Regions from separate parts of the Homo sapiens genome. Here region 2 is linked to region 1. The links come from fine-mapping of genetic effects on gene expression. Tissue or cell type: ileum. Region 1 holds a variant in brackets; the other region holds the start of a gene. All regions are shown on one strand. Distances are from middle to middle.

What was found. PIP is the estimated chance that this variant, and not a neighbour inherited with it, causes the effect.
Region 2: G0S2 starts here. The variant in region 1 is fine-mapped to the expression of G0S2 in ileum (GTEx, PIP above 0.99).

Annotation. Positions count from the first base shown.
Region 1 is chr1:210,410,480-210,415,681 of GRCh38, reverse strand. The region is part of intron 6 of HHAT (hedgehog acyltransferase); the gene reads right to left. Among named protein-coding and RNA genes, the nearest start is that of HHAT, 84 kb to the right of the region's middle. The variant T/C (reference allele first, on the strand shown) is at 2,504.
Region 2 is chr1:209,672,333-209,677,446 of GRCh38, reverse strand. G0S2 (G0/G1 switch 2) reads right to left here and starts at 2,035. Exons shown (of 2, transcript NM_015714.4): 1 at 1,898-2,035; 2 at 1,057-1,794. The coding sequence starts at 1,762. The coding sequence ends at 1,451. All of the region lies in intron 1 of HSD11B1-AS1 (HSD11B1 antisense RNA 1), which reads left to right. RefSeq lists enhancers at 1,075-1,923, 4,204-4,443.

The DNA of each region.
Region 1 (5,202 bases):
GTCTCAAAAAAAAAGGAAAAAATTGGTACAACAGGAATTTCCCTTTTGCCTTTTGTTTCCCTCAGGTCACTTCAGGAAGATATTTTATGCAGCCATACCAATCTGCACTGTTAAGAAACAACAGTAATTGCTTTGGAGAATTCATCTGGTTAGTGTTCACAGGAAGCAGAATTTGAGTTCTCCAAGAAGCAAGATTGGGTATCCTTGGATATTTGCAGACTTGTATTGATCAGACCTAACTGCAATTACAGATGCACTAGTGACCCCAGGCAGACCCCTTTCTGGGCATAAACTGAGGATGGTTTTCATTTGAATCCTTACCTCAAGCATGCATGCTCTGAGAGACCCTACGAAGTCTATGGCAGCAGATCTGTTACAAGCCAGTCAATCACTAAATCCTCAGTGCAGAAACACCTACCTGCCAGATCATTCACGTTTGTTTTAATAAACGAGAAGTTAAAAGGAAATAACCCAAATGTCCAACACTAGGGTGTTGGTTAAATGCATGTGTGTACCTCAATATTGTATGGTCATGAAAACTACTTTTATTCAATGTGCATAAAATAATCCAAAGCTGGAAAGATATACACCAAATGTCAAAAGTGGTCATCTTTGGATGGTGAGAGTTTAGTTATTTTTGACAATTAAAAAGATTTTTTTTTTAAGACAGAGTTTCACTCTGTCACCCAGGCTGGAGTGCAGTGGCACAATCTCAGCTCACCCCAACCTCTGCCTCCCTGGGTTCAAGCTATTTCTGTGCCTTAGCCTCCCAAGTAGCTGGAATTACAGGCATGTACCACCACACCTGGCTATTTTTTGTATTTGTAGTAGAGACGGGGTTTCTCCACATTGGCCAGGCTAGTCTCAAACTCCTGACCTCCAGTGATCCGCCCACCTCGGCCTCCCAAAGCGCTAGGATTACAGGTGTGAGCCATCACACCCAGCCAAATTGGTTCTTTTTTAAATCAGAGAAAAAGTAATGTGATCTTACAATGTTGTGAATATTTGGGCCCTCTCTGTTAGAGAGGCAAATGTACTCAAGACCCCTCTGTTTCTTCATCCTGCTTCTCCAAATGCCTGGCATCAGAACTTCTGCCAGGAAGCCCAGCATCCTCTATGAGTGAGTATTCTTCTCCATGTTTTATGCTAGACTAATTTTTATTTCTCCTTTCCTTCCCCCTTCACTCTTAGATTTTTTTTGTAGCTATGTACTGAGTTCTTCTTGGTTCATTTTCAACCCTTTTCCAGCTCTCCAAAGCAAGTTCATTTTGACCTAATAACCACTAGCAAAAGAAGACATGATTACAAACACACTGCTATGGTCTGCATGTTTGTGCCCCACTAAAATTCATATGTTGAAATCCTAACCCCCAAAGAGACGGTACTAGGAGGTGGGGCCTTTGAGAAGTGATTAGGTCATGAGAGCAGACCCTTCATGATTAGGATTAGTGCTGTCATCAAGGAAACCTCAGAGAGTTAGCTAGTTCCTTCTACCGTGTGAAGACAGTGAGAAGGTGCCAATCTATGAACAAGGAAGCGGGCCCTCACCAGACACTGAATCTGCCAACTCACTGATCATGGAATTCCCAGACTCCAGAACTGTGAGCAATACATTTATGTGGCTTATAAGCCAACCAGTTTATAGTATTTTGTTACAGCAGCTCAAATGGACTACGGCAGAAAATCAGTACCAAGAGTGGGAGTGCTGCTGTAACAAAATACCCAAAAATATGCAAGTAGTGTGGAAGGGGTAATGGATAGAAGCTGGAAGAGTTTGGAGGTGCATGCTTTAAGCAGTATACATTGCTGTAAATGGATCTTTAAGGGAAATTTTGGCAAGGGCTCAGAAGGAAAGGAGAAGAGCTGCAGAGAAAGCCTCAATATTCTTAAAGAATAGCTGAGCAGTAGTGAACAGAATGTTGGTGGAAATGTGCATGGTAAAGGCCAATCTGATGATTTCTTAGACAAGAGAAACATGGTATTGAAAACTGAATGAAAAGCAATCCTGTTATGAACCAGCAAAGAACTTGGCTGAATTGTGTTCGTATCCTAGTGTTTTGTGGAAGGCAGAATTTGTGAGTAATGAAATTGGATATTTAGCTAAAGCCATTTCTAAGCAAAGTGTTGAAGGTGCAACTTGGCTCCTCTTGACTGTTTATAGTAAAACAGCAGAGGAGAAAAGTGATTTAAAGACAAAATTGTTAATCAAAAGGGAAGCAGAACTTAAAGATTTGGAAAACTCTCAGCCTTTCCATACTATCAAGAATGAGAAAGCCTGTTCAGGAGAGAACATCAAGAATGTGGCCAACCAACCACCTGATAAGGTTAGTCAGCTGTTTAAACAGAAGCCAGGACCTCCTGTCCAAGACAATGGAAGAGTGATCACAAAGAGAATTCAGTCATGAAAACTATTTGTGTTCAATGTGCATAAAATAATGAAAGGCTGGAAAGATATACACCAAATGTCAACAGTGGTAATCTTTGGATGGTGAGATTTTAGTTA[T/C]GTTTTACAATTAAAATTGGTTCTTTTCAGTCAGAGAAAAAGTAATGTAACATTATAATACTGTGAATATTTTGACCCTCTCTGCTGCCACCATCATCACAGGCCAGAGTGCAAAGGCCTGGGGGACAAAGCAATTGCAGATGCAAAGGAGGGGCTGTCACTGCCCAGTCCTGCCTCACATTGTGGGCTCTGCTCCCCACTCCCCGTCACCACACTCCTTGGCTGCCCCAAGGGTGGCTCCTGTGGGCCCCAGTGCAGTGTAGTTGGCACTGCAACCAGAAAAGCTGTGAGGGGGTGTGGCTGCCTCCACCTAGATTTCTAACAATGCCTAGAGAGCCATGGGGCCCAGACAAAGAACTGCACAGAGGCAGGGCCCAGCAGAGCCATGAGGGTGGCACTGTCTCATGACCCCAGACCAGTAGAGCCACCAGCTCAAGATTCTGGCCTGGGTGATCTGCAGGAGGCATAACCCCCTCCCCACCACCATGTGTCCAGAGGCACCCCAGTGTGTCTGAGAGGTGAAACCTCCACCCTAGTGGGCCTGGAGGGCAGAGTAATGAGCCAAACATGATGATTCCTGAGCCTTAAGGTTTTGGACTTCCTCAGGAGCTTTTACTCCTTTCTTCTTTCCAATTTCTACCTTTTGGAATTGGAGTGTCCATCCTATGCCCGTCTCACCATTGGATTTGGGTGTACAGAGCTTGATTTCACAGGCTCACAGCTGAAGGGGAATTTGCATAAGGATGAATCATACCTTGAGTATCACACACATCTGACTTAGATGATATTTAAATGAGACTTTGGATTTCAGACACTTGAGTTGGTGCTGGAACAAGTTAATACTATTGGGGCTATTAGGATGGAATGAGTGTATTTTGCATGTAAGGAGGCCATTAATTTTCAGGGGGCAGGGGCAAAATATTATTAATTGAATGTTTACATCCCTCTAAAAATTCCTATGTTGAAATCCTAACCCCCAAGGTAATGGTACTAGGAGATGGTGCCTTTAGGAAGTAATTAGGTCATGAGGGCATTCTTCATGGTTGGGAATAGCACCCTTATAAAAGAGACGCCAAAGAGTTAGACCCCTTCCACCACAAAAGCACACAGTGACAGGTACCATCCTGTGAACCAGGAAGCAGGCCCTTACCAGACATCAAATCTGGCAGTGTCTTGATCTTGGACTTCCCAGCCTCTAGAACTGTGAGAAATAAATTTCTGATGCTCAGAAGCCATCCAGTTTATGATATTTTGTTATAGCCGTCTGAATGGACTAAGATACATACTATCCATTAGTCTGTAGAGGCTAGAGGAGTTCACACCAAGGTTAAGACATGTAGAGGCATGTAGAGGCATGTAAGACATGTAGAGGCAGCAAAATCACTCTAGACCAATGGACAGGTCTTTCCTGGCACCCAGACTCTTTTCTTTATGACACAGGGTGTCACTCTATTGCCCAGGCTAGAATGCAATGATGTGACCCTACCTCATGGTAGCCTTGGCTCAAGCAATCCTCCTGCCTCAGCCTCCCCTGCAGCTGGGACTACAGGCATGTACCACCACGCCTGGCTGATTTTTTTTTATTTTTTGTAGAGCTGAGTTTCACCGTGTTGCCCAGGCTGGTCTCGAACTCCTGGTCTCAAGTGATCCTCCTACCTCAGCCTCCCAAAGCACTGGGATTACAGGTGTAAATCACTGTGCCCAACCTGCTCAAACTCTTGGAGAGAAGCAAGTCTTCTAGCTGAACGTGATAATGGCCTCAAAAGCAGTGTTGACAGCAGATAATCTTCACACAGACAAATGTCTACAGTTTCTAAATAAGCCAACTGTGCATATGGCCTACAGGCTCTTCAGCATAACCTACCCAAAGCTCAGGTTCCCTGAAGGCCAGGACAGTACCTCGGGCCTCCAAGCAGCATTTGGTATGGAGCCCCATCCCAGGGAGTGGAGAGATAGCAGCTGGACTGGAAGGGAGCCAGGAGGAGGCCAGAACCAACAGCCCCCAAGATAATCAAGAAAATATCGCTGACACCCAATCACCTCTCAGCTCCAGGCAATCACGTTTCAAGGTGAATTCAAAGGCCTCCTTTCCCTCCTCAAACATGTGCATTCTAAAATGACACAAATATCTGTAATTAAGAAAAATCATGAGGTACATTTTGTCATGCATTGGCTTCTTAATAATGACTTACCTACTTTTCACAAGCTAAAACTTCCCTACCAGGTATAATAAGGCATAATTACATGTCACTACAGGACCAAAAGGACTAGACTTTTCTCTGCAACACTCCTTTTCTGGTGCTGACTGCCTCCCTGCTCCAAGCAACAGAAATGTTTATTAATTGCACAAATAAGCCAGGCATGGTGGCTCATGCGTGTAATCCCAGCACTTAGGGAGGCCAAGGCGGGCGGATCACTTGAGGTCAGGAGTTCAAGACTAGCCTGGCCAACAGGGTCAAACCCTGTCTCTACTAAAAATACAAAATTAGCTGGGCGTGGTGGCAGGTGCCTGTAATCCCAGCTACTCGGGAGGCTGAGGCAGGAGAATCGCTTGAACCTGGGAGGTGGAGGTTGCAGTGAGCCAAGATCGTGCCACTGCACTCTAGCCTGGGTGAAGAGTGAGACTCTATCTTAAAAAAAAAAAAAAAAAAAAAATTTACAAATAAACAACACAGCAAAAGAAAAACAATCCAACTTTC
Region 2 (5,114 bases), 740 kb after region 1:
AAACTCCAAATATGTTTCTTTTCCTTGATTAATCTTACCACATTCTGATTGCTTTTTTCCTTTGGGAGTGATAAGAATAGATTTCAGAAAGAGATGGCTTTTGATCAGGGCCAGGAACACTTGGTAGGAATTGAGTTGGCAGAAATGAAATGGAGATGTGTGTAGGGCATTGGACGAAGGAGAGAGTCTGAGCAGAGGCAATGGTGTGAGCCAGTGATATGTTTGGCAAAAATGCATAGCTGTTGATGAAAGGAGTAAAGTGTCAGTACCTGATTAGGACAGGTGACATGAAAAATGTGAGGAGACTAGCATCAAGGCCATGCCTCTGGCTCCTGGCTACTTCTTTAAAGTTTAAAATTTGTTTTGCTGAGCCCTATAGAGTCACTGAATTAGCTATTACTACAGATGAAGCTCTGTACACTGGAGGAGGAGGACTCAGATATGTAACAACCGGTTTTTTTCTCTTTCTAGCCCAGAGTTTCTTACTATGATCTGGATTCGTGGGGAGGAAGGCTGGGTAGAGCTAGACTCATCATCTGCTTTGGTGTTCTTGGGAGCTTATCTCTTTTCCTGCCAGGTAGATAGTTTTTCCTTTCTTTCCTTCCCTTCACCTCCAGACCTCCCTCCTTCATTTTCTTTCCTTCTCTCTGTCTGTCTGTCTAAAATATAGTTGGGAAGAAAAAGGTATCAGCCATGGGAACCTCTGGTGCACAGGTGTAAGGAACAAAGAGCTTTTCTGCCTTAGAATTAATCAGTTATCTCCTACTCACTGTAGCTCAGAAGTTGATCTACCTTTTGATGTTAAAATGCTAAATCTCACGGAAGTTATAAAATTTTCTCTCTTCCCACCCCTAACAAGAAGGAAAAACAAGTCCTCAACAGACTTATATGCATGTAGTAACTTATTACACAGTTCCTAGGTGTGAAGCAAGTGTCTGACCCTCAGGAAGCTGCTCCCTCTGCAGTGCTCAGGTAAGAACCCATCACCATCGCCCACCTGCTCACCCTCCCTGCTTCCCACCCCAGGACACCACACCTCTCAGGAATTACATGAGATATGGTATAAAAAGTTTTTTTATTTCAAAATGCAAAATGGTGGTCATTGTAATAATTAATAATAATAACATAAAAAGCATTTATCCTTCCTCCCTAGTGCAAAATGGTAGACGCATTTAGATAATTCACACAGTGTTGGAAATGTCATGACAATGCAGTGCTGCACAGCAGCAAAACTCAATCCCAAACTCCTTTGGTGGATGCTTGTGGTAGGTCAGTTCTAGATGTCAGCGGTTTCTCTGAAGTTAAGTCCAAATAAAAAACAGCACGTGCTCCTGCACTCTCCCAGCGGAGTCAGGCTCCTGTGCGCGCGCCCCCTCTGTCTCTCCATTCCTCTCTCGGTCTGTCTCTGTCTACTGCGTCTCCCTCCCACTCCGCTGGTCTCCCACAGTTCCTAGGAGGCGTGCTGCCGGTTGGACAGGGCCCGGCCGCCGAGGACCGTGTCCTGCTGCTTGCCTTTCTCCTGCAGGGCTTGCTTCTGGAGAGCCTGTCGCTCCAGGGCGGCCTGCAGCTCCGCCACGGCTGCCTCCTGGTCCCGCAGACGTCTGGCGGCCGTGAAGGGGCTGCACACAGTCTCCATCAGGCCGAGCACCACGCCGAAGAGGGCCAGCACGCTGCCCAGCACGTACAGCTTCACCATCTTCCCCTTGCGCTTCTGGGCCATCATCTCCTTGGCCAGGGGGATCAGCTCCTGGACCGTTTCCATCTCGGCTCTGGGCTCTCGGAGGCGGGAATGACCTGCAGGAGGAGCAGCAGGAGAGGGGCTTCAGCCACCAAAGAACGGCTCCCACCACCCCGCACCCAGCTAATCTTGGGGAGGGCTCATAGAAAGGCGGACTACCTTAGTGGCACGGCGCGAGCAGGAGGCAGCGCGAGCTGCAGTTGGCAGCGGTCAGCGCGTCCGTTGGTCCGACCGACCTCAGCGTTCTCCTCCTCTCGGCAGCTGCAGCTCTCCCAGTTGGAGACTCCGCCGCTGGCACCGCTTTAGCGTCCGGGGGCCGCTTATATCTTTTCTCTGAGACACGCCTCCTGGGCTCTCCGGCCCAGGCCAGCGCGGTCAGAGCCAGGGGAACTCGGAGGGGGAGGAAGAAGAGGAGGGGAAAAGGAGGGGGTGGAACCCGGCTGGGACCTGGCAGGAGGTGGCCACGCGCTGAGCACGCTCCGACTGTGTGAGCTAGGGGGCCCGGCGCGGGTGCCATCGCAGCGGGGCGCGTGGGAAGGCCAGTGTGCACGCGAAGGTCCCACTCCAGGCGAGCGCAGGGGAGGACCCGGAGCCCAGGGAGGTGTCCGCGGACATCTCTGACATGGCGGCAACCTTCTTACTGGTGTCAGCGGGTGCACAGCTTCCCTTGTCCAGGACAGCCTGACATTATAAATAATGAGGGAATTTGGGGGTTCCATCTAAAGAAGAAAGCTTTCATTTTTATTCGGAAGGGTTGTCACCTTCCCACGTGTGTGGCAATGGATCAGAGAGGAGAAGGCAAGGGGGAAGGATCTGGGTAACAGGACAGAACAGGTTACGCTTGGATAAAGCAATATGTGCTAATATTGTTTCTTTCCTGCCTGGTTGGTTTTATTTAGAGGTACATGCATGTATAACTAGAGTCAGTTGATAGAAAACTATTCATTGATGGTGCTTTTATGCACAGAGGTGTGTGTGTGTGTGTGTGTGTGTGTGTGAGAGAGAGAGAGAGAGAGAGAGAGAGAGAGAAAGAGAGAGAGATTAGTCTCTTTGCCTGCGAGCTGTTTCCTTATGTACTTCCGTGTATCAGGGAAGAGCCTTCAAATTCAAATTGTTCTCACTTCCACTTGAGAAGTGGAGTTGGGAGCTTGGGGGTAGGGGGTCAAGTATGGAAGGGGCTGTTGGTAGAAGTTCATCTGCCATTTTAGAATGGAAGTATTTCATGCTCTCCTCAATAATTCTCTGCCACCCTCCTGGGTTTGGGGGTACAACTTCACTGCTCCAGCTCAACTTCAGCTTTGAAGCAGTTTGTGGGCAGAAGGGCGTGTAGTAGACAGCTTAGGTAAGAATCCAGAGTGTGAGTACTCTTGGACGTGTGAAGATGTAGGATTGATTTTGACCAGGGTTAGCTGTAATCACCTGGGGCTGAGGGAGCGTTCTAGTTTGGCTTTGGTTATGGATATGCTAGAGTTAGCAAACTTGGGGAAAAAGAGAGGCAAATTGGCCAAAGGGTTAGCAAACTTGGGGAAAAGGAGAGGCAAATTGGCCAAAGGCCTTTAAGCAGAGAAAGGGAGGGGGCAGGGGAAAGAAGGGGAAATCAAACTGGCCAGAAAATTGCAAAGGTCAGTGATGCAATCTTGCAACAGCCTTTGCAGTCGGTCGGACTGAGCCCTGAAGGGCGGGTCGGGGGAAAAGGCTGTCTCAGGGATCAAATATTTTAGTTTTTGAATTGTTAACAGTAATCTTTCTTTGGGGGTCTGAAGCAATTTCTCAGATGATTCAGTTTAAAAAGGCAGCAATAACAACTACCCTTTGCCTTGACTATTAATAGTTCAGGCAAGGGCTTGTGTGTGGAGAATGGTCAAGGTTATCTAAATAGCTTATTTGAAATTCTATGTTTTAGAATTTAGTCTGAGTGAAGGTGACCAGGGGCCAAATAGAATTGATTATTCCTGGAGGACTGTGTTTCCTGCTTATTGTTCTTTTAACCTTGTCAGGCAGGAAAATTCTGTAACAAGGGTTCCTGCCAAGTTTAATATCAGTCTTGGCATTTTCTTTGAATCTTCCTTATAGTTTCAGAGCAACCTCTGATAACTGGCAGAAATGATTAGTGAGCTTTCCCAATATCTGTGAGGGTTCCAAACCCATTGACTTCTGGAAGAGCATGTGATGTGTGCCCTGATATAAGGGCTGTCACGTGGTTTCCATTCTGAAGGTGAGTCAGCCTAGCTTGGGACCCAAAATTCTGAAATTGACTGGTCCAGTAAGCATTTCCTGTGTTTCTGTAACTCAGAGACGCAAACCACACGTCTTCCTAGGTCAGAAGGCTGTAATTTACCTGGGGTTCCCCTTTCCTGTGATTTGCTGTGTTAGTGCACATCACCAGCTCAGTTCCTTTTTTTGATAATTTGACTTTGACCTCCAGGTTCCAGCAGCTATATTGGTAAGAGCTGGACAGAGGAGGGGCAGCAAGTGCCATGGACGGAGGTCACTGGTAGACTTGATCTTCCTAGTTTAGGTGGTAGCTGGGGCTGAGCAGGAGATGATGGGAGTAGAAGGCTAAGGAATCCAGTGTTAACTCATGTCTAGGAATTTCTGAGTGCAGCTCCTCTGTCTGGGTGGGAAAAGAGAACCTGGCTCCTAGGGTAGAAGGTGACTAGGTAGGGCTTGGAAACTAAACATATATTTTAGTGGGGCTGATGTCATTTTTAGGGAAGTAAAGCACTGTGTTGTGTCATGCATGCAGGTAAGATACAGGTTATAGCGATGATGGTCAAACCAAGCCATAGGGTGACCAACCATCTTATTTTGCTCAGGGTTGAGGGGTTCTCTGAAATGCAGGACTCCTGCTAAAACTGAGCACTAAAACTGAGATACTTCCAGGCAAACTGAAACACTTCCAGGCAAACTGAAATAGTCATCCTACCCTTGAGTCTATCTCAACATTTAACTCTTGCCACTTCTAGGAAGGTAGGAAGGACTAGTTTAAAATTTTTATATTTTGCTTTCTAAATCCCTTTCTCTCAGACATTAAGACATTCAGAGCCATCTGCAGAGGGTAAAGTCACAAAGGGGTGCATGTGTTTCAAGGGTTAAGTGCAGAGGAGGGATAGAACTGTCCCTACCCCTCTGCCTTGGGGATTGAAGACACAGGGGAAAGAGGTCTTTTGGATGGTTAGTTGTAAATGAGCTTCAATAATAATTGTTATTGTTACAATTATTATAATATAATAATAACAATAATAATTATTATTTTGTTACCGGCTGCTTGCTGCCTACACAAAGTCACTGCCCACCCCTGGGGCTCCAGGCAGCTGAAGGGAGGGAGTCATCATAGGAGATATGACAAAACTATTTGTAGTTTTAAGACTACCGC